Homo sapiens: one gene and its partners. The protein of the gene in region 1 interacts with the protein of each later gene in a pairwise test. Each region holds a gene or a part of one and is shown on either strand. Other genes may lie near its edges. The genes, in order: ABI1, VASP, NHSL2 and CCDC57.

The links.
Region 2: the proteins of ABI1 (region 1) and VASP interact in binary tests that used the Homo sapiens proteins (3 or more experiments, as listed by UniProt).
Region 3: the proteins of ABI1 (region 1) and NHSL2 interact in binary tests that used the Homo sapiens proteins (3 or more experiments, as listed by UniProt).
Region 4: the proteins of ABI1 (region 1) and CCDC57 interact in binary tests that used the Homo sapiens proteins (3 or more experiments, as listed by UniProt).

The regions. Positions count from the first base shown.
Region 1 is NC_000010.11:26,746,028-26,753,372, forward strand, and holds the end of ABI1 (abl interactor 1), read right to left. Parts: intron 5,757-7,345; coding exon 5,571-5,756; intron 2,719-5,570; coding exon 2,543-2,718; 3' UTR 569-2,542; downstream 1-568. Other genes in the region: all trans-polyprenyl-diphosphate synthase PDSS1, read left to right, coding at 306-446. UniProt on the Homo sapiens protein: May act in negative regulation of cell growth and transformation by interacting with nonreceptor tyrosine kinases ABL1 and/or ABL2. May play a role in regulation of EGF-induced Erk pathway activation. Involved in cytoskeletal reorganization and EGFR signaling.
Region 2 is NC_000019.10:45,510,321-45,517,802, reverse strand, and holds part of VASP (vasodilator-stimulated phosphoprotein), read right to left. Parts: intron 141-7,482; coding exon 1-140. UniProt on the Homo sapiens protein: Ena/VASP proteins are actin-associated proteins involved in a range of processes dependent on cytoskeleton remodeling and cell polarity such as axon guidance, lamellipodial and filopodial dynamics, platelet activation and cell migration.
Region 3 is NC_000023.11:71,913,421-71,920,902, reverse strand, and holds part of NHSL2 (NHS-like protein 2), read right to left. Parts: intron 1-7,482.
Region 4 is NC_000017.11:82,209,361-82,216,959, forward strand, and holds the start of CCDC57 (coiled-coil domain-containing protein 57), read right to left. Parts: upstream 3,483-7,599; 5' UTR 3,425-3,482; intron 1-3,424. UniProt on the Homo sapiens protein: Pleiotropic regulator of centriole duplication, mitosis, and ciliogenesis. Critical interface between centrosome and microtubule-mediated cellular processes. Centriole duplication protein required for recruitment of CEP63, CEP152, and PLK4 to the centrosome.

The DNA of each region.
Region 1 (7,345 bases):
TACATAGAACTTCTGAGAAATTCTAATAAGTAAAAATTAGGGGAAAACGAATGACTATGTAATATTGATGAGCTAGTTGCTTTGCATGCTAATAGAATAAAAATTTGCTTCAATATGAGAAAAAGGCCTAAAGGAAGTTAGCACTATGAGTCGGGAAAAGAACATTAGAGATGTAGTTTGACTGTTAACTGTAATCCTCAGCTCATCTGATCTCAAAACTATGTGTTCATTTATTATAGCAGGAAGTTAAAACGCTGATTCAGTCAGTGACAGGCATCTGTTCTGTTTTGTTCTGTATCTTATAGAGTGATGGTGTGCAACAAACAACCTACCTCGCCCAGCAGTACTGCCATGAAGCAATAAGAGAGATCAGTAAACTTCGACCATCCCCAGAAAGAGATGCCCTCATTCAGCTTTCAGAAATTGTACTCACAAGAGATAAATGACAACTCTTTCTGTTCTTTCTGGCAGCTATCTTACCAGACTGTGCCTAAAGAATTTTGTGGAATACACTTTGTTTGCTTCATGTGCAGATAACCAAAAATCATTTTAAAAGATATCAAACTTATTGATGGGCAATTTATTTTTTTTTATTGCAAAAGTTTTTTCAGAAAACTTTTTAAATGTAATTAATAAACCACCTGAATCTGTCATTCTAGTCCTATAAATTATAATCAAGGTATCTTGATGGTTATATGTGGTATTGTTTACACTGTTAATATCCACATGTAAGGCCATTACACAAATAAATAACCAATGTTAAAATTCAAATGGTTTGTCTTGATTTACCGTAGGAGTAAAGGTCAGAAAAATGTGAAGTCTGCATTGAAGTCCACATGAGTTATATTTTAACAGTATCCAAAATTTCATATAGGAGAATGGTTTATTATAAAAGACTGTACATAAAATTTAGACAACAGGTTATATACAAATTAAGAGAACAATCCACTTGAAAAATGGAAAGTAGAAGGTAGCTAGCTGATCACTAATGATACTTTGTTTGTTTAAAATTAACAAAGGCAAAATGCATATGAAATAGTCACATTGATTTGGTAGCAATAATGGTCTTTAATTTTCAGAAATAACTGTTTTGCACTAGTCTTACCATTCACTATGCTGTTATAAGTCTGTAGCATCCAGTACATAACTGTAATTTGAATTCCAAACAAATCCTCAATAACACAGAAACCCACACTTGAGTGCTCTACTTTAATATCCTAAGCAATAGAGAATTATACACAAGACAAGAAGAGAAAACATCCCTCAGCCCTCCCTTCAATTAAGAGGAGACACACAAAGTGCATGTGTTGCATTTTGATTATGTCAAAAGACAATCCAAGTCTGTTGGTTAGGTAAATCTCTGTTCACTGATTAATACATGACCCACCTTCTTTCCCAATTATTTTATTTTAAAATTCTAATGTTGCTAGTGCCAGGTAATGGATTAAAGAGTGCCTACTCACAAATCAACTGTATCCACTTTTACAATATGTAAAAGGTACTTTTAACTTCCTTTCATTGAACCAGTGTACAACAGTTCACTGTACAACTGAAGGACTGACATGGCAATCCTTAAGAATTTTACCTACAGAATGAATGCACACAATTTGACACATTTTCTTAGTTTCAAAAGATTATTTAAAAAAGGAATTCAGTAGATTGACTTGTAAATAACCATTGCAGATTTTGAATCTGCAAAAATCCGTCACATTGCTGTTGGGACAGATTAAGATAAGGCTAAAATTTTTTTCCAAGTTAACATATTGAGAAAATAGAATCATAATTCTGCAATAAATCATTATCTTTTATTTTTTTTAAAGCAAATCAGTGAAGGAAAGGACAAAAACCTTTGGTTCACTTATGTATTTATGAATGGAAAAAGTTTATAATGCAAATTTCACTCATTAAAAAACTTAGGTACAAATTACAACATTACAGATAATTCTCTTTTTGCTTGTTTCACATGGAGACCTTGGAGACTCAATTCACGTTAAGACACCTAAGTACGAGTCCTCCAGGTAAATATTACACAAATGGGAAGCATCTTGAATTTTTAAGTATATTTCAATACATAAATTTTTATGCATGCTTTAAACAAACAGTATTTTTTTTAAATGAGAGAATCTAACAAAAAAAGTCTGACCAGCACCAGCATTTAAATTTTCTGATTTTAATATTAGTCTGACATAGCGTTAGTAACCATGCTGCACTGAAACATGTAATGGTACAATCTGAATCATGATTCGTTAAATATTATACCCCACTTCCCCCAGAATATTTAGGCTGGTCATAAAGTTAAAAATGTGTAAGTAAGTACATAAGCATAATCAGTTATGGACAGCTTCTTGTATAAATTGCTATTCAGCAATACATAAACTGCCTCAAAGATTTATGCTTACAGGTAGACATTCAATTTACCAATAAAACAGCATGTTCTGAAAATATGGGCACATTTTAAAACATATTAAGACAGTTCTGTTAACCATAATAGTCCCACAGTATGACTGAGTAATAAGAATCTACTTCAAAAGAAAAAAAAAAATTAATCAGTATAGTGCATGATTGATTCAACATAGTTCCCAGGGAACAGACCAGTCACTCGATTGCAGACTCCTTCATACCAGCCATCATCATTCTTCTTTATAACATAAATGATTGCACCCTCCATAAATGACAGCTCATCATCCTTGTCTTTTGTATAATCATATATTGCAACAACTATGGAAAAAACAGTTGAAATATCACATGAGTGCACTATATCCAAAATTTACTTGAATTTTAAGACAAAGACAATTAAATATATAGCACAGCAAAACTATTTTTATGAAGATTTCTTAATTTTTGTATCTATCAATATAAGTAGGTCAGTGGCCAACCATGTACTTAAATCATTGGCTTAATCTTAGAGCCAAATGACAATCTGATTAGACTGAATACATCAATAGGTTCTGTCAATCACTTTAAGAAAGCTCTCTGAATTTTAGAATTTATTAGATGTTTCAATTCATTCAAATACCAAGTGCCTATCATATGCAAAGCACCGGCTTTTCAAAATAATTATCAGGCAAAGAAAGCTGCATAGCCATTCAGTAAACCAGGTAACAATCCAAGCTATCTAATTTGAAAAAACACAGTTACTGGAAGGTAAATCACATCCTACTCATTCAAGGACCCATGCTAATTTAAGGGACTGTCCCCAGATTTTTTTTTAAAGAATATTTACTTACTTTAAAGGATTTTAATTAATACTTAGAGAACTTTGCAATTCTGTGGTGTCTGTAATTTTTTCAGTTCAAGATACAGGTTGAGTAACCCTTATCTGAAATGCCTGGGATCAGAACTGCTTTGGATTTGGGATTTTCAGATTTTGGAATTTTACATATGCGTAATGAGACATCTTGGAGATGGGACCCAAGTCTAAACACAAAACTCATTTTTGTTTCACATACACCTTATACACATAGTCTGAAGGTAATTTTATTTTTCCCTTGGGAACACTGAATAAACTGTGTCATGTGCCTGCATTTTGATTGTGACCCATCACGTGAGGTCAGGTGTGGAATTTTCCACTTGCGGCATCATGTTGGAACTCATTTTGGATTTTGGAGCATTTTGAATTTGGGACTTTCAGATAGGGATGCTTAGCCTATATTCACTTCCTTTGCAAACTGCTATGGAAAGAGAAAGTAATCCAAAATGTATAAAATGGCCCATGGACAAATCCAAACCACGCAATTTTTGTAAATAAAGGTTTATTGCAATATGGCCACATCTACTTACTCATGTATTGTCTATGTCTGCTTTTACGCTACAATAGCAGGACTGAGTAGTTGTGACAGAGACTGTATAGCCAGCAAAGTTTAAAATATTTACTATCTGGCTTTATACCAAACAAAGTGTGCTCACCCCTAGTTCTTGGGAATATACTTTTTAATCCTCCTCTACTATCAAATATATTACCCAATATATCATTCCAAATTTGTCAACTTATATAAATATGGTCCCATTTTCACAGTTAATTGGCTTCACCAAGTAAGAAAATATGGGTAAAAACACAATTCAAGGTCACTCAAGTTTATCATCCTCGTAAGTAACAACAGCTCTCTATTTGAAGGTATATGGGAATCTCAAGTAGAATATTCAAGACTTTCTTAACAATATGTAAATTACTTACTGTTTAAAAATATAAGGCCACGCTCGGCTCATGCCGGTAATCCCAGCACAGGGAGGCTGAGATGGGCGGATCACTTGAGGTCAGGAGTTCAAGACCAGCCTGGCCAACATGGCAAAACCCCATCTCTACTAAAAATACAAAAGTTAGCTGGGCGTGGTGGCGGGCACCTGTAATCCCAGCTACTTAAGAGGCTGAGGCAGGAGAATTGCTGGAACCTGGGAGGCGGAAGTTGCAGTGAGCCGAGATTGCACCACTGCACTCCAGCCTGGGAGACAGAGCAAGACTCCATCTCAAAAAATAAAAAAATATAAAAGGAAAACAAATTTACTTTTGCCACATATCCAAAACTTGGGCAGGAAAGAATGCTGCTGGTCTCAAGAGCTACATCTACTAGCTTAAAGTCCGTTAACCCAGTAAAGTCAATAGAAGGAAATATATTTCAAAGGCAACCAAAAGTGTTCAACTAAATCACAAGCATTTTTCAGAACTCTATAGAAATACAGATTTTATTTTTAATTGATTCCCACTTCTGCAAAAAGAAATACAGATTTTAAAATAGCACAGAACTGGATGAAAAAATAAAAACTAGAAACAGGATTTGTTTCTTCCCCACCTATATTTCTTAATAGATAATTATAGTGAATATCGGGTACTATAGGTAAATTAGACTTTAGAGTAGTTCATAATTTCATGAAATACAATCCTGATAATTTCTCTTGTGTTTTATAAAATCACCTAATTGAAACCTTAATTGAGGCTTTTCTCATGATAGTACTAATATATTTTTAAAGACCGATGCTCCTCCACTTACATACAATGGGGTTATGTCCCAATAAACCCACTGTTTAGTGGAAAATATTGTAAATTGAAAGTACATTTTCAACTTGTATTTTTTTTACTTATAACAGGTTTATCCAGACAAAGCTCCATCATAAGTTGAGAAGCATACTGAATGCATATCATTTTTGTACCATCATAAAGTTGAAAAGATCCTAAAGTGAACCATCATAAATCAGGGACCGTCCATATTTAGATATGAAAGGTAATCAATAGAGCTTGACAGAACTTTTAAAATCTTTACTAATTACATATAACTCCATTTTTGTGCCTTAGCTGTTTCATCTATAAAATGCCGTCCAGCAAGTTAATCTTCAGCTGAACGCATATGTAGTTTGAAAGCAAATCTAACACTGCAACTTTTATTTAAAATACAAAGAAAGAATCCCCCTGTACACTGGGAATAATACAAAACTTAGGAAGTAAGGTTTAAGTAAATCATCTTGGTTGGTAAGGCAGTTTAAAAGGCTGAGAAACATTGGATTAGATGTTCTTTATAGTTCTAAATTTCTACAATTAGGTTATTTTCCTTCACATCAACTCAATGACTGTACCTTACCTTTCTCAATATAATTCTTGGGGGCCCAAGCAGGATCCCCATCTGCATATGGATCATTATACTGAACTACTGCAGCCTCCTCATCTTCATAATCCACTGGTGGTGGTGGTGGGGGAGGTGGAGAGTCATCAAACATGGGAATGTCATCTGGTGGAGGTGGTGGCGGTGGAGTTGGACTATCAGCAACTAAAAAGATTCATATGATTGATTTGAATCAAAAATAAGTCTAGATGGAAACTTATAAGTTAACAGAATTTAAGAAAGCTCTAACTTAAGTACAGCATGCACTATAATAAAACATGCAATGATTAGAAATAAAAGCTTGGTGTGTTAAAGTTTATGCTACTCAAGAATCATTTAAAAATAACAAAATGAGCTAAAAATAAGGGTATCTGGAAGTACTACAAATTAATGAATGCAGGGTGTTAGGAGACAATGTCTCTTTTTATAAGGATTATAGGAGTAGTTTCCTTATTCCAAGGTTCAGATCGGGACAAATGTTAACAATCTAAAATAAATCTATGTCACTTTTGTCATTTGGACTGCAGTAATGATATGAGTAACATTACGTTAATGGTTTGATCACTCTTCACTCTGCTCATTCATGCCCCTGATTTTGGCTTGAAACAGCTTTGGTTCCCTAAAAATTCAGTCTCCTGTGGACAGATTTTTGTTTCTTTGTTGATTATTGTTTGTTTTGATGAAGAGAAAAGTAAAGTTGGTAGTATTAGGTCTGCTTCTGTGTGCAGATTTTCTACTCTGTTATTTACATTTTACAAGTTGAAAAAATGGAAAAAGAATCCCCAACCAGTAGAAAATCTAATTGAGTATTTTTAAAAAGGTTTATATTCATAATTAGTTTTTTAATGTAGAAAGCAAGCTAAAATTTTGCATTATTGCTAGTAAAACATAAGCACGGGATGAGGGAAAGCCTAGATCCTAAAGATTCGATTTTCTAAGAATACATCAACAATTAAGATTTAAACATAAAGTGTTGAAGATGTAATTAAAAAAAACAAACAAAAAGGAACTTACAGTAAACAAAACAATAAAAATGACTCATACCTCAAACTCTAGATGGTCGTGGTCAGTATATATGTGTGTGCTTTACACAGTCAAAGGTGTAAACAGGGAAATGGGAAAATGTCAGGCTAGAGCTCTGTTCAATGAACTAGTATAATATCAGGTAAAAATGCTCCTAAAATTTAAAGAATTCAAAGCTGGAACCCAATTAATGCTTAACTTAAATTTCTGATCAATAAATTTCTTTAAAAGTTCAAAAGACATATGAAAATGTTTTCATACAAATTGATACAGGAATTACATAATTCCTGCAGGGGAGAAGTTCATAATACAAACATACTAAATCAAATGCCAATTTCTGGGGCTATTTACGTGATCAAAGAAATCAGCCATAATCTATCTGTCATATAGGTTTAAACGTTTAGTCTACCCTCCTTGGAATAATGTGCTGAATATACAACCAAGGGCTCCAGGTTTAAAATATTTGCAGATAATGACCCTATTTCCATAACCACTTCAATGCTGTGATTTCTATTTTATCCTCTCGAGGGATGAAAGGGCTATTAGAAAACAAACCCTATATGGTAATGCTCACTATAACACCTATCAAACGGGTCTACAATTAATTTTTCTGCCTCATTCCTAGATCCATTTTATCTTTGCCCATAACTTCCTCTATAAAACTTTTTAATATTATTGAGGAGAGGAAAATGGGTACAGACCCCTCCTGACATCAAACAGCCATAGTTCAT
Region 2 (7,482 bases), on another chromosome or scaffold:
CGCGAAAGGAATTGGCCGTGGGGTTGTGGTAGATCTGGACGCGGCTGAAGGCCTGGGGACCCGTGCCAGCAGGGAGCCATCGCTTGTTGCCATCATCATAAAGCATCACAGTGGCCCGGCTGGAACAGATGACCGTCTCGCTGCAGGCGGGAGGAAAAGGGAGAGGGGCCGGTCACCTTCTTATCTGGGTCTCTCCTGGGAGATTCCAAGGGACAAAGACAGTGTGTGGAAGGAAGAGAGTGACACAGAGGGAGGCAGGAGCCACGTGGACAGAAGGAGACGGGGGAGACAGATCAGGAGAGAAAATCAGATCAGGAGAGACAGGCAAACACACAAACGAGATGCAAGAGACAGACGCAGAGAGAGGTGGGAAAGGGAGAGTCGGGTTGACAAAGAGGAGAGACAGACTGAAGGCAGACAGACAGATGAACAGATGGGGGAGGGGTGGGGAAAAAGGATGGGCAGACAGGGGACCTGGAGGAAGAGGCAGACACAGAAAGAGATAAAGATGGTCTTGGCGTGGTGTCTCACACCTGTAATCCCAGCACTTTGGAGGTTGAGGCAGGAGGATCACTTGAGCCCAAGCATTTCAGAGCAGCCTGGGCAACATAGTGAGACCCCATCTCTAATAATAATAATTATTATTATTATTTTTATTTTTGTTTTTGAGACAGAGTCTTGCTCTCTGTCACCCAGGTTGGAATGTGGCCTCGACCTCCTGAGCTCAAGCGATCCTCCCACTTCAGCCTCCCAAGTAGCTGGGACTACAAGCATGCACCACCACACCCGACTAATCTTTTTTTTTTTTTTTTTTTTTTTGAGACAGAGTCTTACTCTGTCACCCGGGCTGTCCTCGGCTCACCGCAACCTCTGCCTCCCAGGTTCAAGCCATTCTCCGCCTCAGCCTCCTGAGTAGCTGGAATCACAGGCATGCACCACCAAGCCCAGCTAATTTTTTGTATTTTTAGTAGAGACGAGGTTTCACCATGTTGGCCAGACTGGTCTCGAACTCCTGGGCTCAAGTGATCCATTTGCCTCAGCCCCACAAAGTGCTGGGATTACAGGGGTGAGCCACCACACCCAGTCCACAAAAAAACTTTTTTAATGAAAAATAAAAAACACAACACAACAAAACTAATAAGAAGGAAAAGATAAAGATGGAGAGACAGGCTGAGGGGTGTAAGAGGCCGAGGCCAATGCCAGTGGGGGGATGCGGGTTAGCAGAGCAGAGGGCAGGAGGGAAGACAGAGGGGCCAGAAGGAGGCCAAGAGCCCAGAGCTGCACTAGGGACCAGCCCCTGCCTGACCTCAGTTTCCCTATCTCTACGCACCCCCCTCCACCACTGCCTGCTCAGGAAGAAGCTGAGGCTTGGGAGGGGAAGTGTGAGGCCTGCAGCAGGTTGGGGACCCATCCCAGACCTCTGAGCTCTTCCTCCAAAGGGACTTCCCGCTGCCCACCCCTCGCCTGGCTCCCCAGGGCACTAGCGGCCATTCCCCAGATACTCCCTGCTCTGTGTCTGGCCTATATTGGGTGGGGCTGGGGATGAAGACACAGCAGTGACCCAGACAGCTCCGGCACCACCCTCCTGGGGCTCACAGTCCAGTGTGGGAGACACAGCTGTCCCCAGACGGTACCAACCCAGGTTTAGGACCAAGGAGCCCAGGGTCTGGGGGTACCCTGAAGGAACGCCTGCCCCAGCCTGGAGAGTCAGGCAGGACTTCCTGGAAAAGGCAACGTCTGACTTAGCCTGGGTGGGAGGTGTCAGTAAACTGGTGCAGAGTTCAGGAGCTGATATCCCCAGACCTGGGTTCAAATCCCCACTGAGCCACCTACTTCATGTGACTCAGGCACATGACCTTCCCACTCAAGACCTCTTCTTGCCTGTGAACTGGGAAAATGACAGTCCCCACCTCCAGGGCAGTGGGGGAGGGGCACATGAATCTGGGCACCTAAAGGGCTTGGTACAGCCGGGTGTGGTGGCTCACGCCTGTAATTACAGCATGTTGGGAAGCTGAGGTGAATGGATCGCTTGAGCTCAGGTGTTCGAGACCAGCCTGGGCAACATGGTGAAATCCCGTCTCTACAAAAACGTACAAAGATTAGCTGGGCGTGGTGGTGTGCACCTGTAGTCTGAGCTACTCAGGAGGCTGACGCAGGAGAATCGCTTGAACCCAGGAGGTGGAGGCCGCAGTGAGCTGAGATCACGCCATTGCACTCCAGCCTGGGCGACAGAGTGAAACTCTGTTTCAAAAAAAAGAAAAAAAGCTAAGTGCTTGGTACAGCGTCCAGCACACGCCGAGAGCTCAGTAACTGTCAACATCCCTCTCATGGGCACCACTGGGGCCCGGGACAGCTACAACCCTCGGGACCCTCCCACCAGCCCCTCTGGGAGGTTCAATCCCCTCTCCCCCAGTGAGGAAACTCAGGCCTAGACAGGAACTCAAACAGGAAGTGACTTGCCCAAGGTCACACAGGGGAAGGGGAAGCACTGGTCTCCTCCCCACCCCACCCACACCAGGCTTTTTCCTGAAATGGGGAAGTTGGTGGTCAGAGGTTTCCGGGGACAGAAATTAGACACCCCCCGCAAAGCCTCTGTCTCTAGGAGGGCTGGGGGCTGGGTGTGACACTGATGCTGGGAAGTCAGGGCAGGGAAAGTCCCTAGGCAGACTCAGCTGTGGGTAGGGACCTGGGGTAGGGACCCTCAAATTTACCTAATTGTGCCATCTCCCTCTTACTAGGCATTTCAGGTGGATCAGGGGCCTTAAGCCCCTCCCCCAAAGTCACTCATTTTATTCTCACTGCAGCTTATCCAGAGAGCCACTCATTCTAATTTTGCAGGTGAGGACTAGAGGCCCAGAGAGGTTGAGTGACTTGCCCACAGTCACACAGCTACTGAGGAATAGAGTGAAGATGTGAATTCAGGCTTCCAAGCCTTAACCACCGGGAACTGTGTGGGCCCCACCCAAACACCAGGTGCCCTTTCCAGACAAACACAGCCTCGGGGGCTGTTTCTGGCTCCTGCTGCCCCTGGCAAGGCAGGGTTAAGGCCTCGGCCTCACCCACACCTGCCACCCACACCCAGGGCCGACTCTGGCCAGGAGCCCGGGGCTGCTGCTGCCCCGCCCTGGCTGCACTTTGCTCTCCCAGGCAGCCCTGCCCTACTGAGGCTCTGGACTGGCCGGAGAACAGGGCGCCTGCTGGGTGACCAAGGGGTGGTCTTGCCCCTCTCCAGGGAACACTATACCCATTGTAACAGAAGGATCCTGTTAAAACACGAGGTGGGGCGGGGAACGGTGGCTCATGCCTGTAATCCCAGCACTTTGAGAGGCCGAGGCGGGAGGATTGCTTTAGTCCAGAAGTTCAAGACCAGCCTGGGCAACACAGTGAGACCCCCCATCTCTAAAAAACAAAACAAACTAACAAAAACCTACAAGGTGGGATGTCTCTTCTTCTTCTTGAAGGCTCCAGGCTCCTACGGAATCAATGCCAAGTTCTCTCCAGGGCCTCCGTGATCTGTGTGTCCTCAGATCTCATTTCTTCCCGCTCCACTGTCCCTTGGGGACTCTGTTCCAGACCCTAGACCTCCTACCCCCATGCTGCTCTTCCCGCAGGCCAGACACATTCCTGCCTCGGGCCTGTGTGCTGCTTCTTCCTCAGGCCTAGCCTCTCCCCACTTTCAGGTCTCTCCTTAGATGTCACCCCTTCCAAGAAGCCGTCCCTCACTCCCTTAGCTGGAAACGCTTCTCTCCTTTTCATCCCCTGCTGCACATTTCATAGCAGTGACCCCTGCCCAACACAATATTTGTCTGTCTCCGCTGCCAAAAAGGCAGAAATTTGTGTCCCAGTTGTTCACTGCTGTGTCCCCAGAACCTAGAATGGCGTCCAACACATAGTAGGGACTCAATAGTTACGAAACATCTGTAAAAAAAGGCAAACTTTGGCCAGGGGAGGTGGCTCACGCCTGTAATCCCAGCACTTTGGGAGGCTGAGGCAGGAGGATCACTTGAGCCCAAGAGTTTGAGATTGGCTTGGGAAGGCTGGGTGTGGTGGCTTATGCCTGTAATCCCAGAACTTTGGGAGGCCAAAGCAGGTGGATCTCTTGAGGTCAAGAGTTCGACACCAGCCTGGCCAACATGGTGAAACCCTATGCCTACTAAAAATACAAAAATTAGCCAGGCATGGTGGCTCATGCCTGTAATCCCAGCTACCCAGGAGGCTGAGGCAGGGGAATCACTGAACCCAGGAGGCAGTTGCAGTGAGCCGATCTCAGACCACTGCACTCCAGTCTGGGAGACAGAGCGAGACTCTGTCTCAAAAAAAAAAAAAAAAAAAAAGGAGAGAGACTAGCTTGGGCAAGATGGTGACCTCCGTCTGTACAAAAAACTTTAAAATTAGCTGGGTGTGGTGGCGCTTGCCTGTAGTCCCAGCTACTCAGGAGGGTGAGGCAGGAGGATCACTTGAGTCCAAGAGGATGAGGCTGCAGTGAGCCTTGTTCAGGTCACTTGCACTCCAGCCTGGGCAACAGAGCAAGACTCCCTCACAGAGCAAGACTCCCTCACAAAAAAAGGCAAACTTTTACCTAGGACACCTAACATTTCTCAGTCAGCCTGGGTCCCAGACACTCTTCTTGGTGCTTGACACCAATTTCCCTGCTGCATGACTCTACAACCTCATGGGATAGGCTCTGACGCTCACCCTTTTGACAAGGGGGAATTGCAGGCACAGAGGAGTGAAGGCACTTGCCCCAGATCACACAGCAAGTAAGCAGAGGGGCTCATAGTTGAAACGAAGTTCCCACAAGTTCTTAACTTCATTTAAAGATGAAGAAGCAGAGCTAAATTGAAATTTTTAAAAGCCAAAGTACAAGGTAGTGTTGATCAGAGGCTTTACAAAACCAAAAAAAAGGTCGGGTGCGGTGGCTCATGCCTGTAATCCCAGCACTTTGGGAGGCCAAGGCAGGCGGATCACAAGGTCAGGAGTTTGAGACCAGTCTGGGCAACATAGCGAAACCCCGTCTCTACTAAAAATACAAAAAATTAGCCAGGCGTGGTGGCGGGCGCCTGTAATCCCAGCTACTTGGGAGGCTGAGGCAGGAGAATCACGTGAACCCAGGAGGCGGAGGTTGCAGTGAGCCAAGATCACGCCACTGCACCCCAGCCTGGGGGACAGAGCAAGACTCCGTCTCAAAAACAAAAACAAACAAACAAAAAAGGTAGGCTAGGCGCAGTGGCTCAAGCCTGTAATCCCAGCACTTTGGGAGGCCGAAGCAGGCGGACCTCTTGATGTCAGGAGTTTGAGACCAGCCTGACCAACATGGTGAAACCCTGTCTCTACTAAAAATAGAAAAATTTGCTGGGCGTGGTGGCGCGTGCCTGTAATTCCAGCTACTCAGGAGGTGAGGCAGGAGAATTGCTTGAACCTGGGAGGTGGAGGTTGCAGTGAGCTGAGATCGCGCCACTGCACTCCAGCCTGGGCGACAGAGCAAGACTCCATCTCAAAAAAAAAAACAGTGAGGAGCATATATAAATATATCTGCACTCAGAGTGGTGATATATGCAGAGACTGTTTCCCAAGACACTAACTGTGGCTGCCTCCATTGAGGGGAACTCAGGAACTGGGGAGGGAAGAAACAAATATTTTGTACCATTTATCTTTTGAGACAGAGTCTCTCACTCTGCACCCAGGCTGGCAGTGGTGTAATCTCAGCTTACTGCAGCCTCCACCTCCCAGGTTCAAGCAATTCTCCTGCCTCAGCCTCCCAGCCTCCACTTCCCGAGTTCAAGCGATTCTCCTGCCTCAGCCTTCTGAGTGTCCGGGATTACAAACGTGTGCCACCACGCCAGGCTAATGTTTCTATTTTCAGTAGAGATGGGGTTTGGGCGTTTGCCACATTGGCCAGGCTGGCCTCAAACTCCTGACCTCAGGTGATCTGCCTGCCTCGACCTCCCAAAGTGCTGGGATTACAGGCATAAGCCACCAGGCCCAGCCACCATTTCAATAATTTCAGTAAGTATTTCAAACTGCTTATTATTTGTTTTCTTATCATGGGTTGAAATTACCTATAAAAACCTAACTCACTACTTAAGTTCAATAAATAAAACTGTAAACTACACAAAAGCCAGAACGAAAATCCCATAGCCATAAAACGGGGGTGCGGGGGCTGTGAGATGGAAAGGAGTTCTGCCCATTTCCAGTGTGTTTTCCCGAAGTCTAGAACCCTCCATTGGACATGAGAACACTTTAATTTTCCAGCCAGCCCAGGACCCACTCCTCCCTGCAAGTCCCCACATTTTGGAAAACTCTAGCACATGGCGGATGAAAAGACGGTTCAAGTTGCCTCCTTGTTGTGTGGCTTTGCCTCTCTGAAACTCAGTTTCCAGCCCTGGAAACAATAACTCACTGGGTTCATTGTAAGGATTAAAAGAGATAATGGACAAAAAGCCCTAAACGCAGGAACTGTAACTTGGTACACGCTCCACATGAAGGAGAGAGCTTCCCATCACCAGAGGTAATCAAGCATGGTGAATCCGGTTTTCACAAAACTTGCAGTCTTACCCTTCCCTTCACTGTCCCCTGAACCCAAGACTTAGCCCATACCCTCCTTATACCATAAAACCTATGATACATATACACCACCCTTCCAAACGACAAATCTTCTTTTGTCGGGGATGGGGCTACTCTAGTCCCTTCCTCCTGGTGGGCCTCAGTTTCCCATAAGTGAATAGGAAGATAAATGTTGCAGCTTCGGTTTCATTTGGCTTATCTGAATTATCTTAAGAGTTTTCACAGTGAAAGCACGTTCCTTTTTTTTTTTCTTTTTCTTCATTAAGAACACGGAAAGCATGTTATCTCTATTTTTTTTTTTTTTTTGAGACAGGGTCTCACTTTGTCACCCAGGCTGGAGTGCAGTGGCAAGAATATGACTCATTGCGGCCTCAACCTCCCCAGCTCAAACGATCCTCTCGCCTCAGCCTCCAGAGTAGCTGGAACTACAGGCGCATGCCACCACACCCAGCTAATTTTTGTATATTTTGTAGAGACGGGGTTACACCATATTGCCCAGGCTGTTCTCAAACTCCTGGGCTCAAGCGATCCTTCTGCCTTGGCCTCCCAAAGTGTTAGGATTACAGGCATGAGCCCCGGCGCCTGGCCCTGTTTGAGTTTAATAGGCACCTTGCCTAACTTTCCTGTGCCTCAGTTTCCCCATCTATAAACTGAGTACCGGGGTGGGGAGGCCACAAGGTTGTAATAGTATCATTGTTCGAACTGCCATGAGGGGCCAGGTGTGGTGGCTGACGTCTGTAATAATAACACTTTAGGAGGTCGAGGCGGGTGGATCACCTGAGGTTAAGAGTTCGAGACCAGCCTGGCCATCACGGTGAAACCCTATCTCTACTAAAAATATAAAAATTAGCCGGGCATGGTGGCAGGCACCTGTAGTCCCAGCTACTCGGAAGGTTGAGGAGGAGAATCGCTTGAACC
Region 3 (7,482 bases), on another chromosome or scaffold:
GAACCTGGGAGGCAGAGGTTGCAGTGGGCCGAGATCGCACCACTGCCCTCCAGCTGGGCGACAGAGCAAGACTCAGTCTCAAAAAAAACAAAAACAAAATATATATGTAACCTAACCTCGCATTATTACTGCTTACAATTAATTCATCTGCGAGATCATTTTTTTTTGTCACTTACTTTAATCTAAGTCTGCATCATAGTTCATGCTCATTATCCACAAGTATAATTTGTAAAGGATTGCGTGTTCAAATAAGTCAGGAAACTGGGTCTCTCCCAGCTTTAACATCTATAACAGGAGTTCTTCACCTAAGCTGCACGGTAGAATCACATGGGAACTTTTAAATAGTACTGTTTCTTGGGCCTCATCCCCCAGAAATTCTGGATTTATTGGTATGGGGTGGAGCCACAGCATTAGTACTTTTTTTTTTTTTAACATTTAGGGTAAATTCTACCAACATGTTGTACTGATTACAGAGGACTTTGTTTTAAGCATCACTATATCTTGGTCAATAATATCTATTGGTCTACATAATGATTTTGTATAATTACTAAGAATTTAGCAAAACATTAACAATTTAAAAAAACTCTCTAGGTGCTTTAGATTGGCAGTCAGAGTCTATATGAGTCTACGGCTGTAATTAAAAAATGAAAAATGCAATCAGACATGCAGTGTGAAGGATTCTACCCAGGGAGATGGCTGGATTGCCTGGTGGCCAGGGCATCTTGTAGACACTGCTGAGGTGTGCCTATGTCCTTGAGGCTGCCTGGCTGTGAGCTCAGGTTTTCCTCGCTTCATATCCACGCTGGTGAGAGTTAGGCATGCTGGGCCCTCAGGCAAACTGCCCAGTACTTTACTGAAACACGCTTAGGCCCCATAAGTTCTGTGAGAAGGTGTTTCTTCACCCATAAACCAGGCTGGTTCTGTAAAACTGGTGAGCTCAACCAGGAGCCATGCAGACATCCCAAGGGGAAGAAAACAGAGAGCCAGTGAGACACTTGGACAAGAGCTCTGCCCAAAGGCAGGGGACACTGCCTGGCTATGCGGCTTGCATCCATCCTCTGCTGCTTCATTAAAGTCCCTCCTTGGCATCCCAGCCTGGCAGGTTCTGTGGTCAGCCAGCACCACATATTCTCTGTGACAATAAACATCTCATAGCTGCCTTGACTCTTGGTGGTGCCTCAGCTTCAGTTCCAAAGAATGTTTTCCCCCTTGGTTGGCGAGGCAGTGAACAGATGTCAGTGGGGGAGAATGAAGGGAGGAGTCAGAGGAAAGGAAAATCCTCGGGTTGGGAAAGATGAGCTGACAGCCTCAAAGGCTAGATGCGGCTCCTCCGTGGGCACACAAACATTCTTTACATATTCTGGAAAAGGGAAGAATGGCTGCAATTCATAGCTGTCTAGGAACATTCTTATTATAACTTCATCTTGACAGTACCCCCATCCAGGGATTTCAGCAAGCTTCGTGGAATTTCACCTTCTTAGTATTTAGTGATGGTGTCCATGGTTGCAGCATAGGCACCAGGCATTTCATTAATACATACATTATTTTGGATCCTCACAACAACCCTGTGAACTGGGTAGTATTTAACCCCATTTTACAGATGAGGAACTGTGGCTCAGAGACACTAGAGTCAGATAGTAGGTGCTGGGCAAGTGGGACTTCACCTGGAAGCTGACGATTCCAAATCCAAAGATCCTTTTCCTTAACATGTCATCCATTGTCTTTTCTATTTACTAAAAGTAATAGATGTTGATTGGGGAAATTTTGACAAATACAGAATGGTAGAAGGAAAATACTACCACTCATCCCCATAATCCCATCACCCTGAGATAATCATTGTCAGCATTTTGGCATAGGCTTCTCCAGTTTCTTCTTATGTGTATGTGTCTGTGTGGGTGCTCTGTTTTAGACGATATTGTATATAGTAGTAAATTTTATCTTTGGTTTTTACTCAGCATTATTTTGTGCATTTCCATGTAGCCTTATAATTCATTTAGAGCATAGCTTTTCATGGCTGTATATTAGTCTATCACATAGACCTAGGAAAATTTATATAACCACTCCCCTATTATTGAATGTGTAAGTTATTTTCCTTTTTCTGGCTAATGCAAATAACCAAAAAATGCAGTGGGGGTTCCCTGCACATTTTTCCCCCCACAATATCTGATTATTTCTTTAGCATAAAATCCTGGAAATGGAATTACTGAGTCAAAGGAGACACTCAGTGTATAACAACAAGGCCTGTCTTGCTGACAACTCGGAGATACCACCTCCTGCAAGGGCAGAGAACTGCCCTCCCCCTCAGCCCCCAAGGACAGAGGATGTTAACGTAAGGAGACCTCAATCACCTCCGGGCCTCCTAGTCTGGGGGAATAATTTGAGTTTGGTATTTTTCAGTTACTGGGGATCAGGCTATAAATTGTCAGGCAGCTAATTACACTGTGCTCGGAAGCAAATGATTCCAGTCAAAATAAAAACAGATGATAGATATTTTTTAAAAACTCATCTCCTCTTTGAGTCCATTTTAAAAAAAAAAAAAAAATTCTGATTTTCCCCTTGATGAATTACAGACGATTCTGAAGAATCTATGCTATTCAGAAAGAAAAATAATAATAAAAGATATCGTCAAGCCTCAAATTTCCCCACTCACAGAAAAGCAGGGGCATAAATAATACATTTAGCTTTGGAGTGCAACTGGATACACACAGCCGGGGACACACAGGCAGGTAGACTCTTGCTTTCTCTCTCTTTCTCACTGTGGCTCGGAGCCCCTCCTGCTCTGTCTAGCCTTTTTAGAGGGGCCCAGGGCCTGGCCCTGCAAAGCATGAAGGAGCCGAGGTTGCCTGGGTCTCATCTGCCCAAGGATAATGAAAACTTGAGTGTAGATAAAGAAAATCCACAGTTAGTTAATATTACAACTTCATTTGAACCATGCAGTTTAACCTTCTCAAGACCCTCATATCCAACTCCCTGACGAACAAACAGGATGTGAGGAACTTCCCACCCCACCTCCACCCTGGGGGCTTATTCTGAGTCAGGAGGTGCCTTGCTCCCTCTCCTCCTGAATCACTGGCAGTGAATTCCTCCCCCACACCAGCTCTCTCACATATCCAGGGCTTTGCACAGGCTACTTCCTGAGCCAGGAATTCCTTCCCCCACCTTCTTCAACCTTCAACGGCCAGCTCCAGATCATCCTTCAGAACTCAGACATCACATCTTCCTGGAAGCTTCGCTCAGCCTCTGTCCTGAGTCAGGTGTGCCTCCTCTGCCTTGCCCCGGTAGCCTAGACCTTATCTCCACAGCACTATGGCTCACTGTTCTCCCCACTGGACTGTGGGCCTGCATCCTAGTTCTACTCTGTACCCCCAGAAATCAGCACAGGGCAGGGCCCAGAGTCAAGTACTCAAAGAGTGTGCGATAGCTAGAAAGAAAGAAAGAAGGTATTCAATCTAACAGGTATTTATTAAGTGCCTATTAGGTGCCAAGCATTGTTTTGGGAGCTGGAGACACAACAGTGAAAACAGATAAAGACTACTACCCTCAAGGAGCTTATATCTTATTGAGGAGCTTACATTTTAGAAAGAGAGGGAGGGAGGAAGGGAATGGAAGGGAGGAAAGGAGGGAGGGAGGGAGGGAGGGAGGGGGGAGGGAGAGAGGAAGGGAGGGAGGAAGAGCTGCCTAATTGCTCAAACCTCCCAAGTTAACTGGCTGATACCTAGTGGTCTTGTGCATGACCTCATACAAAGCACTTTACTGCAAACTACCTGTACACTTAATAAACATACCTCCTGTTTGTGGCATTATTAAAGTAGTCTTGACTGTTAAGATTGCCATCCTGTGCCCTCTAACTTGAAAACTTCAATGAGGGCTTATTTGAGTGAAATTGTGGAGTTCCACAGAGCAGGGGAGAGCTGATAGCTTGAACCAGGAAGGCCAGCGATTCCCAACTGACAGTAGAGGACTCTAGAGGACCATAGAGTTATCACAAGAAGTCTGTTAGTTTGCAGATCCACCAAGCATTGTCTATGGACTGAATAAGCACTACTCTTCATATGCATGAAGATAACATTATAGTGTTTAAAACTGCAAATTCATTTAAAAGCATTGCTAAATTCACAATAACACTAACAGAATGACAGATTGGTTTTTATTTTTGTTTTTACCATAGGGAATTCTAAAAGTCCAAATTCCATCTTTGGACGCCAAACCGGACTGAGCAGAAGAATCTTCTGGTATGTGAACTAGGGTCCTGGTTCTGGTTATCAGCTCTCCTCCACCTAAATAAGACCTGATTCCCAGGCACCACATGCTGATGTGGTCAGGAATGAGATGGCACCTACCTCTGCAGCTTGGCAGCTCCTCGAATGGAGACATTGGGTCTTATTCACCTCTGGGTCTTTAGCACCCAGCACAAAGGTCAGACAGGGTCCAGACGCAGTTGTGCCCACTTTTCGAGGCTAGAAAATAATGATCTAAGGAAAAGACGATTTGAGGCCTTCAGAAAGGGAATACAGCAGCAAAGCCAGTGAGCCTGTTAAGCTACTTGAGCACTGAAGGATAAGAAATCCATACCCTGTAAATGTGTATGCTAAATGCACTTTTGGTAATAATGTTACTTTCTTGTTCCCATTGGTTTTTAATAAAAGGTGCCTTCTGAAATGCCAACCAGCCTCTACTAGAATAACAGAAAATAGTCAGGATGCAGGTGTGTGGCAAGTAGTGTCTACAACTGGATTGAAAGCTACAAGGGAGAAGAACAGGTATAAAGATGGCAGAGGGATCAGGAGGGATTGCAACAGTGTCAGGGTCACTGGCCAGCCACCCCTTCCCACCTGAAGATCCTTTTTCTGGAGCAATTTTCCATTCAAAGAAGACTATGTTTTGCTTTAACAAGAGAGCCTGTTGCCTCACACCTATTCTCTATATTCTCTATATGAGAAAGTTTGACCTTCCTTTCTCCTCTCCAGCTTCAGCTCACCCCCGGCCACAACTACAGAACCACAGGGTGCCCTCAGTTACTAAAGGTAACAGGAGTTATTTCTCATCCTGGACAAGTTCCAACTAGAGAAAATGCCAAGAAAATGACTCTCGAAGAACAACTGACTTTGAACTTAGCATCACTGCAGAGGGCAGAGCACTAGTCTGGTTGTCAGAAGGCATGGCTTCTAGGTGGAGGCCTCCTGTCACTGACCTGCTGTGTGACCCAGCCGGTACCACATTCCCAAATCAGCAGATTAAATACATGATTAGGCCACCAACAGCAGGGGTACAAAAGACAGAGAGGAAGGGAGAAAGAATCTAGTAAGATATTTTAATTTCAACATCCATGTGAGCTTTGAGCCATTTAAAAAGAGTAACATTTTTGTTTAAAGGTTTAGTATTGCTTTCACTTGGAATTACATATGGGGAGGCACTAAAATCTTTTCAGCACTCATGACTACTGAAGGTCTTGATCCAGCTGGGTGCCTTTGGACAGGTACCTTCCCCTTTCTGGGTCCGGGATGTCAAGTGTTATGACACATATGGTGGTTAATGACTGAATTGTTGGTACCACACCAGAGAGGTACAGGAACAGATGATGTAAATATACCACTCTCCTCCTAAAACCTAATCAATGTCGTCAAGGTCAAGGTTGAGCCCAAGAGCCATAACTTGAATCTTCTCCTATTACTCTACTATTCCAACATCCTGACACTTTTATCACTTTAGCTATTCATGTGTCTTAAAAAAGAGAAGATTAAATGTCTTGTTTCTAAAGTGGAAGAAATTCTAGTGGACATTTTGGTATCCAAATCTCCAGGGAAGATGTTTTCAACACATGGAAATACCATGAAGCAGACCAGGAATTTCATGGTATTTAAAAAGAAAATGGAAAGCAGGGTGGGGTGGGAAGAGAAAAGAAAATGGGTTTGCTTCTCCCTCCATACTCTGTCAACCCTCTGTCCCAAGAGCCTCGGGATGAAACGTACCACAGAGACAAAGTAAGCCCTGGCTGAGTGCCTGTTCCAAGTCCCCAAATTCCTGCCACCCTCCCCACTCCATCTGACTCAAGAGGCCATCTCTTCTCTTCATTAGCAAGGACGGTCAGACTCAGGGTCCACAACACCTCATCTAATGGCAAACTCATTGCAGTCTGGAGGTGCTTTTTTCATTTTTTCATCTCCGTATAGATTTACAACAGTCTATCCTCACACTGGAATTATGATTTAAACACAAATAAACCAGCTGTCCTTTCTGATTTGGAGCCAGAGTTGCCATAAAGTTGGAAAATCAAGAAGTAGGAATTTTACATAAAGATGAAGAGGGAGTTTTCACCACGGACCCAACTGGCTGTATTCAAGCCAAAATAATTGTAAGAAGCAACAGAACATCTTTCCCACAGCAAGTTCATGAGCTAGTGTAACATGATAGTTTTCCAGTGTTATTAAACATACCTAGAATTATCTAGCCCTTCAGTGACTTCCTTGATGGCAAAGGAGATATTATATCCCTACGCGGATGGCCTGATTGCTTTTGTAATTATCATCTAAGCACCTACAAACATTATATAGATCTCCAAGGGAGAAGTTGGAAAGCTTAGATTGACTCAGCATATGGTGGCAGGCATGGAGCTATTTCCCAATGGCTTTGACTACACCATTTTTTAGATGAAGAACCCAGTGTACAGGCCACAGATGCCATAAAACAGGACACATTCAAAACCAGATGTGGGGAAAACCTCAACTTATAGGCAGGGCCATGCCTAGGGTGTGGCAACTGCCACAGATCCACAACCACAGGGGCCTTCGGCAGTCCTGTGGTCTACCGTCTCCTCCTTCCATCCCCATCTCCCACACCATACCAGTTACAAGAGCTTTTAGGGCAGTCTCAAAGGGGTTCATGTTACCAAAGAACAGCCTTCAGTGGAGTGGGTGGGATGTTGCGAGGCAACTAGCCTAGCCCAGTCCACCCCTGTAACCTTGAAGATGGTGGGGGCATGACCCATGATTGTGATTGTGTAGAGAAGCACCTTCAACTTCTTCAGCATCCACTTTCTCCTCCTCTATCTCGCTCCTCCTCTCTCTGTCCTCCCCTGCTGCTTCTCAGGGCCCCAGCCCAGCCTGCAGGCTATAGGCCAGTCTGACTTGCCACTACTCAGTCAGTGGCAGCCAAGTTGTCACTGCAGGGAGGCTATATACTGCTGGCCTGTCAGCTGTCATTCACTCTGGCCATGTTGCTTTCCAACCTTCCTCCCACCTTCCCAGGTTTCTCCTGCCCCATGGTCAAAATAAATAGCTAGAGGAAGAATCTGAGGGCAATCCAGACAGATGGAGGATATGCAGGGTAAAATGCTGACCCCCAGCAAAATGGTCAGTAAGGGAGTGGGAATCCTAGGAGGAAAACGCATAGGGAAGAAAAAAGGGCAAGACATGACAATGTTCATTTATTTACTTACTTACGGTCAAAATCTAATATTCGGCTTGCTAAACACCCTGTTGAAGC
Region 4 (7,599 bases), on another chromosome or scaffold:
AAAAACAAAGCACAACAAAAAACAAAAAAACTTAAAATCAGTAAGGACTCAAAATGAAGTAGAAACAGGTGAACCTAACTTGATTACAAGTGCGTAACTTGTAATAAACTCACAGGTTTTTTTGGTGTTTGTTGTTTGTTGAGATGGGATCTCACTCTGTCACCCGAGCTGCAGTGCAGTGGCATGATTATAGCTCACTGCAGCCTCAAACTCCTGAGCTCAGATGGTCCTCCTACCTCAGCCTCCAGAGTAGCTGGGACTCAGACACACGCCACCATGGCTGGCTAATTTATTTTGTAATTTTTTATAGAGATGGGTGTCTCACTTTGTTGGCCAGGCTGGTTTCCAACTCCTCACCTCAAGCGATTTTCCCCCCTCAGCTTCCCAAAGTGGTGGGACTACAGGCGTGAGCCACTGTACCCAGCCAGTTTTTAATATATACAGAGACACAGATATACTGAAATAGATTTGCATGTGTATAGTGTATAGAAACACGTTTCCTACTCTATCCATTAAGAAAGCCAAGAAGAAATGGCATCCCAGTAGCAATATGTCTATCTGGTACTGGGATCTTGGTTTCTAAACACTACCTTCTAAACTAAAAGGAACCAGGGCTCCTTGGAGAAATGACTGATTCTGGGATATGTCAAGGCAAGCATAAGATAAGCCTGAATTCTGTGATGCCAGAAAGAAAGAAAATGCTCCCAGAAGGTTGGGACGTGCTATAAGGACAGAGAGGCCAACTTGAAGGGGCTCCTAACACCTCAATCTGGATAATGTGAGCAACAAAGTACGTGATAGCGATGGGTTAGAATCCATGGAATAAAAAGATGCACTAACACCGAGACCGCGCCCCTGCAAGCCAGCCTGGGAAGAGATGGTTCTTTCTTATAGGAAAATCCCAACTAATAAATGTAGGAGTAATGGAAACAGAAAAATCATTTAACAAATAGCACATTAACAGTTATTTTGGGGAAACACTCATGGGTGCTAAAATTAGTGACAGAAGTATGGTTAGAAACAAGATCTTGCTGGGCGTTGTGGCTCAGGCCTGTAATCCCAGCACTTTCGGAGGCCAAGGCGGGCGGATCACTTGGGGTCAGCAGTTCGAGACCAGCCTGACCAACATGGTGAAACCCCGTCTCTACTAAAAATACAAAAAAAAAAAAAATAGCCGGGCATGGTGGCAGGCGCTGGTAATCCCAGCTGCTCAGGAGGCTGAGGCAGGACAATCACTTGAACCCGGGAGGCAGAGGTTGCAGTGAGCCGAGATCAAGCCACTGCACTCCAGCTTGGGCGAGAGAGAGAGAGACTCAGTCTCAAAAAAATAAAATTAATTAAAAAAAAAAAAAGGCCGGGCACGGTGGCTCACACCTGTAATCCTAGCACTTTGGGAGGCCAAGGTGGTGGATCACCTGAGGTCAGAAGTTTGAGACCAGCCTGGCCAACATGACGAAACCTCGTCTCTACTAAAAATACACAGATTAGCTGGGGGTGGTGGTGGGCGGCTGTAATCCCAGCTACTTGAGAGGCTGAGGCAGGAGAATCACTTCAACCCAGGAGGCAGAGGTTGCAGTGGGCCGAGATCGCGCCACTGAACTCCAGCCTGGGCGGCAAAGAGAGACTCCGTCTTAAAAAAAAAAAAAAAAGAAAAAAAAAAAAGAAAAAGAGAGAAAGAAAGAAACATCATCTTTTACATAGTGGCAAGATATTTCCCCACAAAATATTTATTATTTACAAAGGGAAGGACCCTAACTTTATGGACACACTTGGCAGACACCACCTCAGCCCCCAGGACGTGACTAGCACCAACAGCCAGGGGCATCCTGTGTCTCGTAAGACGCTGGGAAGGGCACAATTTCCCTGTTGAGGTTTTCTTGCCAAAAATCAGTAATATGAAATCAATTATGACAAAACATCAGAGAAATGCCCCCGAACTGGGGGGCATTTTATAAAATAGTGGACTCATCATTGGATCCTGGACCACGGTAAAGTCATCCATGAGGTAGCTGCTAAGCAAGAATAAATACTGGAGACCAGATCATGGGATGATACCAACATGAACGCCAGCGTCTACATGTTGCTGAATGAACTGTGGTTCTCTAAGAGGTCAGCATTCTAGGGGCTCTGGGCAAAAGGCACACGGGAAATCTGTGCTCCTTTTGTATCCTTTTTCTAAGTTACAGATAATTTTTTTTTTTTTTGAGACCGAGTTTCGCTCTTGTCTCCCAGACTGGAGTGCAATGGCGCGATCTTGGCTCTCCGCAACCTGCGCCTCTCGGTGTGGTACCCTACTTTGTTTTAACCTGACTGACTCTCTCTTAGCTGAGAGGGCCGGACAGACACCATTTTGGTTTCTTCGCTTGCAGCCCCTTGTCCCCGTCCCTTAAGGACATAACTGGGGCAAGCTGACTCCAAGCACATCCAGGAATGCGCTTACTGATAAAATACTGATAAGAAACTGGAGCAAGCTGTACCAGCAGCTCCTGGGAACGCGCTCGGTTGATGGTACCCAAAGCCCCTGCGTTTATCACTTTGTGATAATTTAAGCCCCTGTACCTGGAACTGTTTATTTTCCTGTAACTGTTTCTGTAACCATTTATCTTTTAACTTTTTGCCTATTCTGCTTCTGTAAAAAAATCGCTTCAGCTAGCCTCCCCTCCTCTATTTAGACCAAGGTATCAAAAGAAATCTAGCCCCTTCTTCGGGGCCGAGGGAATTTGCAGCTCTAGCAGTCTGTCAGTCGCTGGCAATACAGGACTCCTGAGTAGTCTCAGAGTGTGGCGTTCTCTCTATAACTCCCTCAGTTACAACATCGGGTTCAAGCGATTCTCCTGCTTCAGCCTCCGGAGTAGCTGGGATTACAGGCGTGCACCACCACGCCCAATAATTTTTGTATTTTTAGTAGAGAGGGGGTTTCACCATGTTGGCCAGGCTGGTCTCGAACTCCGGGCCTCAAGCAATCTGCCCGCCTCTGCCTCCCAAAGTGCTGGATTACAGGCGCGAACCACCGCCTCCGGCCTTTTTTTTTCCTCTCTTTTTTTTTTTTTTTTTTTAAACTCACAGACACTGTAAGGCTGCCTGGGCGCGGAGCCGTCCTTGCCGGCGGCGGAACCCGGGGAATTCTCCCGGGGCTGCGGGGCCCTGGTCGGCAGCGCCCACCGCCCCAGGTCACCCACGGGAGACCGAGGGAACGCTCCCGCTCCACGCGGCCGCAACCCCCGCCCCGCCCCGCCGCAGCCTCCGCGAGGGGATCCCCGGTCCGGGCCTGGCCGAGCTCTGAGGGTCGACCTCGCGCTCCAGGTCCCCACCAAAGCGCTGCGTCCGACAGGACGGCAGCTGCTGGGGTTTTCTACAGGAAGAGTGGTCGGAGCGGCGCCCCCCACGCCTCCCACGCCTCCCACGCCGCCCGCCCGCACCTCACCCTAACGCCCGCCAGCAGCGCTGGCCAGGTCCCGCCGCGTTGCCACAGCGACCGGGTCAGTCGGCCGCGTCCGGCTGCGCTCGGTGCAGCGCTCGGGTCCCGCCGACAGGAAACGGGGTCCCTGGCGCTAGGTTCCGGCCCCTCCCGCCCCGCCGGGTTCCGCGCTGCGCCCGGGTCCGAGGGGCGCCCCGGCCGACCCGACCACCGCCGCAGATCGAAGGAGGGAGCCCGGCCTCCTCACCGGTCAGCGGGGCGACTCCGGACGGGGCTCCGGGCTATGGGGACGGCGGGTTCCGCCGCGCGAGGCGCCCCCACCTTCGCCGCCCCCGGCCCGGCCGAGGGTCCCCAGGCGCCCGCTTCCTGAGGCCGCCCGGCTCGCGGTCCCGAAGGGTTGACTTGAGCTTTTGCCCTGAGATGAAGGGAGCACGGGGCGGCCGAGGCTGCCCGTGGGGGTCTGTTCGGGCCGGGGGCGCCACGAAGTCCTGCCTAAGGGTCGGCTGCGGCCACCGGGGCACGAGTTCCCGGCGCTGCCCACGGGCTCGGAGACCGGCGGGGCCCAGGGGCCGTGCGCGCGGTCGCTCAGACCCTGATTAGGGAACTGGGGGAAGGAGGGGGGTCGGGACCCACCGAGGCCCGAAGTCGCCCCCACCATCCTGTGGGAACAACATCCTCAGGCACAGCCATTCCCAACCATTCACATCCTCAGAAAAAGGCACGTGTCCGTATCCATCTGCGGATGGATGAACAGAGCCCGGCCCCGGGACAGAGCAGCCTGGCTCACCCGAACCCTCAGCCCGCAATTCTGCGTGGGAGTGGAGGGGGTGTTTGGTGTCTGGGAATTCCCCTGGTGGGGCAATAAGCCAGGGGTCTGGTGTCATCCTCCACCCACATTGTTAACACTGGATCACTCCTCTCCGTGCCGTGCCTGCAGCCCAGGCACCCTGCAGCCTGTCCTCCCCGAACCATGCGTCCTGGTAGAGCTGTCTCCCTCGCCCACAGTCCTCAGTCCCGCCTCACACACCAAACCCTCTTCTGCCTCAGGTCCTTTGCGCCAGTTGCCTCTGCCTAGACTTGGTTCCCTGGATGCCCCCTCCCCACCCCATGTGTATGTCCGGCTCCCTGGACCCACCCCCCACACTGTGTGTCTAGCCCCCTGGACCCACCCCCCACTCTGTGTCTAGTCCCCTGGACTCCCCTCCCCACCCCCTGTGTCTAGCTCCCTGGACCCCCAACCTGGCCCATGTGTCCAACTCCCAGGACCCCCCCACCCTGTGTCCAGCTCCCTGGTTTCCCCCACCACCCCATGTGTTTGGCTCCCTGTCCTGCTGCCTTCTCAGTGCTTGTGCACCCCCAGCCTCATCAGACTTGTCACTCTATTAGAACAGGATGTAGGGCCTGGACTGTTGGCTCCCTGCTACCCCCACCCACAGGACAGTGCTGGGGTTGACCCGACTTTGGCTGCACATTTGACTGGCCCCTGGATCAGCTCTAGGACTAGATGTACCCAAAAGGATGCCCACATCCTTGCCTCAGCTCCTGCCTCTGCCCACCCAGAGAGCTGCCTTGCCCCCATGTCCACGATGCAGCCACCAGGCCTGGGTAAGCGTGGGTGTCCGAGACGGGCTGGGACACCCAGAAGAGGAGCCAGGACTTGCTTGGTCTGTATCCCGGCTCTGCATGCCTCAGTGTCCCTGCCTGTAAAGTGGGATCTATGGGAACCCATGTGTGGGCCGGGCACAGTGCTCACACCTGTGAACCCAGCACCTTGGGAGGCCAAAGGGAGGATCCTTTGAGCTCGGGAGACAGGGTCTCGCTCTGTTGCCCAGGCTGTAGTTCAGCGGCGTGATCTCAGCTCACTGCAGCCTCCGCCTCCCAGGTTCAAGCGATTCTCCTGCCTCAGCTTCCTGAGTAACTGGGATTACAGGCACTTGCCACCATGCCCAGCTAATTTTGTATTTTTAGTAGAGATGGGGTTTTGCCATGTTGGCCAGGCTGGTCTCAAACTCCTGACCTCAAGTGATCTGCCTGCCTCGGCCTCCCAAAGTGCTGTGATTACAGGTGTGAGTCATCATGCCTGGCCAAAAAAAATTTTTTTAAATTAACCGGGTGTGATGGCACATGCCTGTGGTCCCAGCTACCTGAGGCCAAGGTGGGAAGATCACTTGAACACAGCACTTCGAGGCCACAGTGAACTATGATCGCGCCACTGCACTCCAGCCTGGGTGACAGAGCAAGACCCTGTCTCCAAAAAAAACCCTCTAAACCTATGTGTTATGGATAGGGCCTCTAAGAAGGTAATTAAAGTTACGTGAGTCCTAAGGGTGGGACCCTGAACTGTTGTCCTTAAAAGAAGAGGAAGAGACACCAGGAGTGAGCACACAGAGGAGAGGCCACATGAGGACGCAGGGAGAGGGTGCCGTCTGCAAGCCATGGAGAGGCCTCAGGAGGAACCCACCCTGCCGGCAGCCTGATCCCTGACATCCAGACTCCGGAAGTGAGAAAATAAATGTCGTTTAAGCCGCCCAGGCTGTGGTGTTGAGTTATGCGGCCCTAGCAGGTCATTTGTCACGTCATGGGTATCTGGACCTGGAATCGTGTGCTGGCCCAAGTCAGCAGCATGGCACCCATGGTCACCCCTTCAGCTGAGCCACATGCCCGGGTGCCCCAGGGACAGAGCAGGGTGTGCCACGGGCACTGCCTGGTTCCTGAAGCTGTGGGGCAGGCCGGTCTGGCCCTCACAGCCTGTGCTCTGATTCGAGGGCCGTTCCGTTGGGTTGAGCTCCACGGTCCCAGAGCGCCCGCCGTCAGCTCAGGCCCGAGGCTACACCTACTGAATCCCCCCAGCACTGCAGCACCCCTCCCCTTCCTTCCCTGCCCCCCACACTGCAGCACCCCTCCCCCTCCTTCCCTGCCCCCCCCACACTGCAGAACCCCTCCCCCTCCTTCCCTGCCCAGCTCCCCAGCTGGGCTCCACCTGGGCACCCTCAGTGCGGGTGGCCGGGAGTTGGCTGAGGGAGACCACATTCCCTTCACTCCTGGCCTCCAGCACCCAGCAGGACTCACAGGTGGAAGGCAGACAGGGTGTGAGCCAGGGCCTGGGCCGCCAAAACAAAGAACCCCAAACTGGTCCTTTCTTCTTTCCCAGTTCAGGAAAGCTGAGGATGTCGGCCGGGCCATGGCCCCTCCAAAAGCCCTATGGGAGAATCCTTCCCACCTTGGCCTCAGGTAGCTGGGACCACAGGCACCTAACCCTTCCAGCCTCGGCACCCTTGGCTGCAGCCACATCGCCCCCTCCCGCCCCTATATCCACCATCATGCGGCTTCTCCTGTGTGTCTGTCTCCATGTGCTGCCCTTCTTAGGACGCCATCACGTTGGAGCAGGACCACCCAGCCAATTACGTCGGCGATGACCCTATTCCCAAGCCGCATTCTAATGGACCAGCGGCTACGACTGGATCCTATTTCTTTGGGGACCACCATTCAGCCCTGGACCTGTGTGGGGCTGACAGCCCCCAGTGCTGGCTCCCCCAGGCCGTCCTGCAACCACCCTCATCATGCCACGACAGTGGAGGCCGAGGGCCCTTCCTGGTGCCCCGGTGAGTGACACGGCCAGGACCTGACCCTCCCATGCCTCTGTGGCAGAGCAAGGTGGGTGGGGAACTGGCTGTCCTGCTCCCAGCTGCGTTCCTGGCACCTATGCCCCACCCACCCAGACACACATCTGGGTGTCAGGCAGCCGCATGTCACTGAGTGGGGTAAACAAGGGAGGGTGAGAGGAAGGTCAGAAGGCCATGGCTGAGGGCGTAAGTGTGGGCTGAGGCTCTTGCTTCCCAGAACACAGACTGACCTTGGTGGCAGACCTCACCATGGGAGCCCCCAAAAGCTGCTTGCTTGAGGCCTCCAGGCCTCTTGCAGGGCCCTAAAAGCACAGGGATCCAGGACAAGAGGTGCGGGGGCCCCCGCCTGGGCACCAGCCTGCATGGGCCAGAGCAAGCCACTTCCTCTCAGGTTTGGGGAATGCCCACGTCAGACTTGCAGAGGCAACTTCTCCATCTGTCTGGCTCACAGGCCCTGTGGCAGGAGAGGAGCCAAGAAATGAAAGGGCCCGGTGGGTGTGGGCGGGCCCTGCTCCGATCTGGATCTGGCCAGTGCCTGTGGCACGCCCTGCTCTGTCC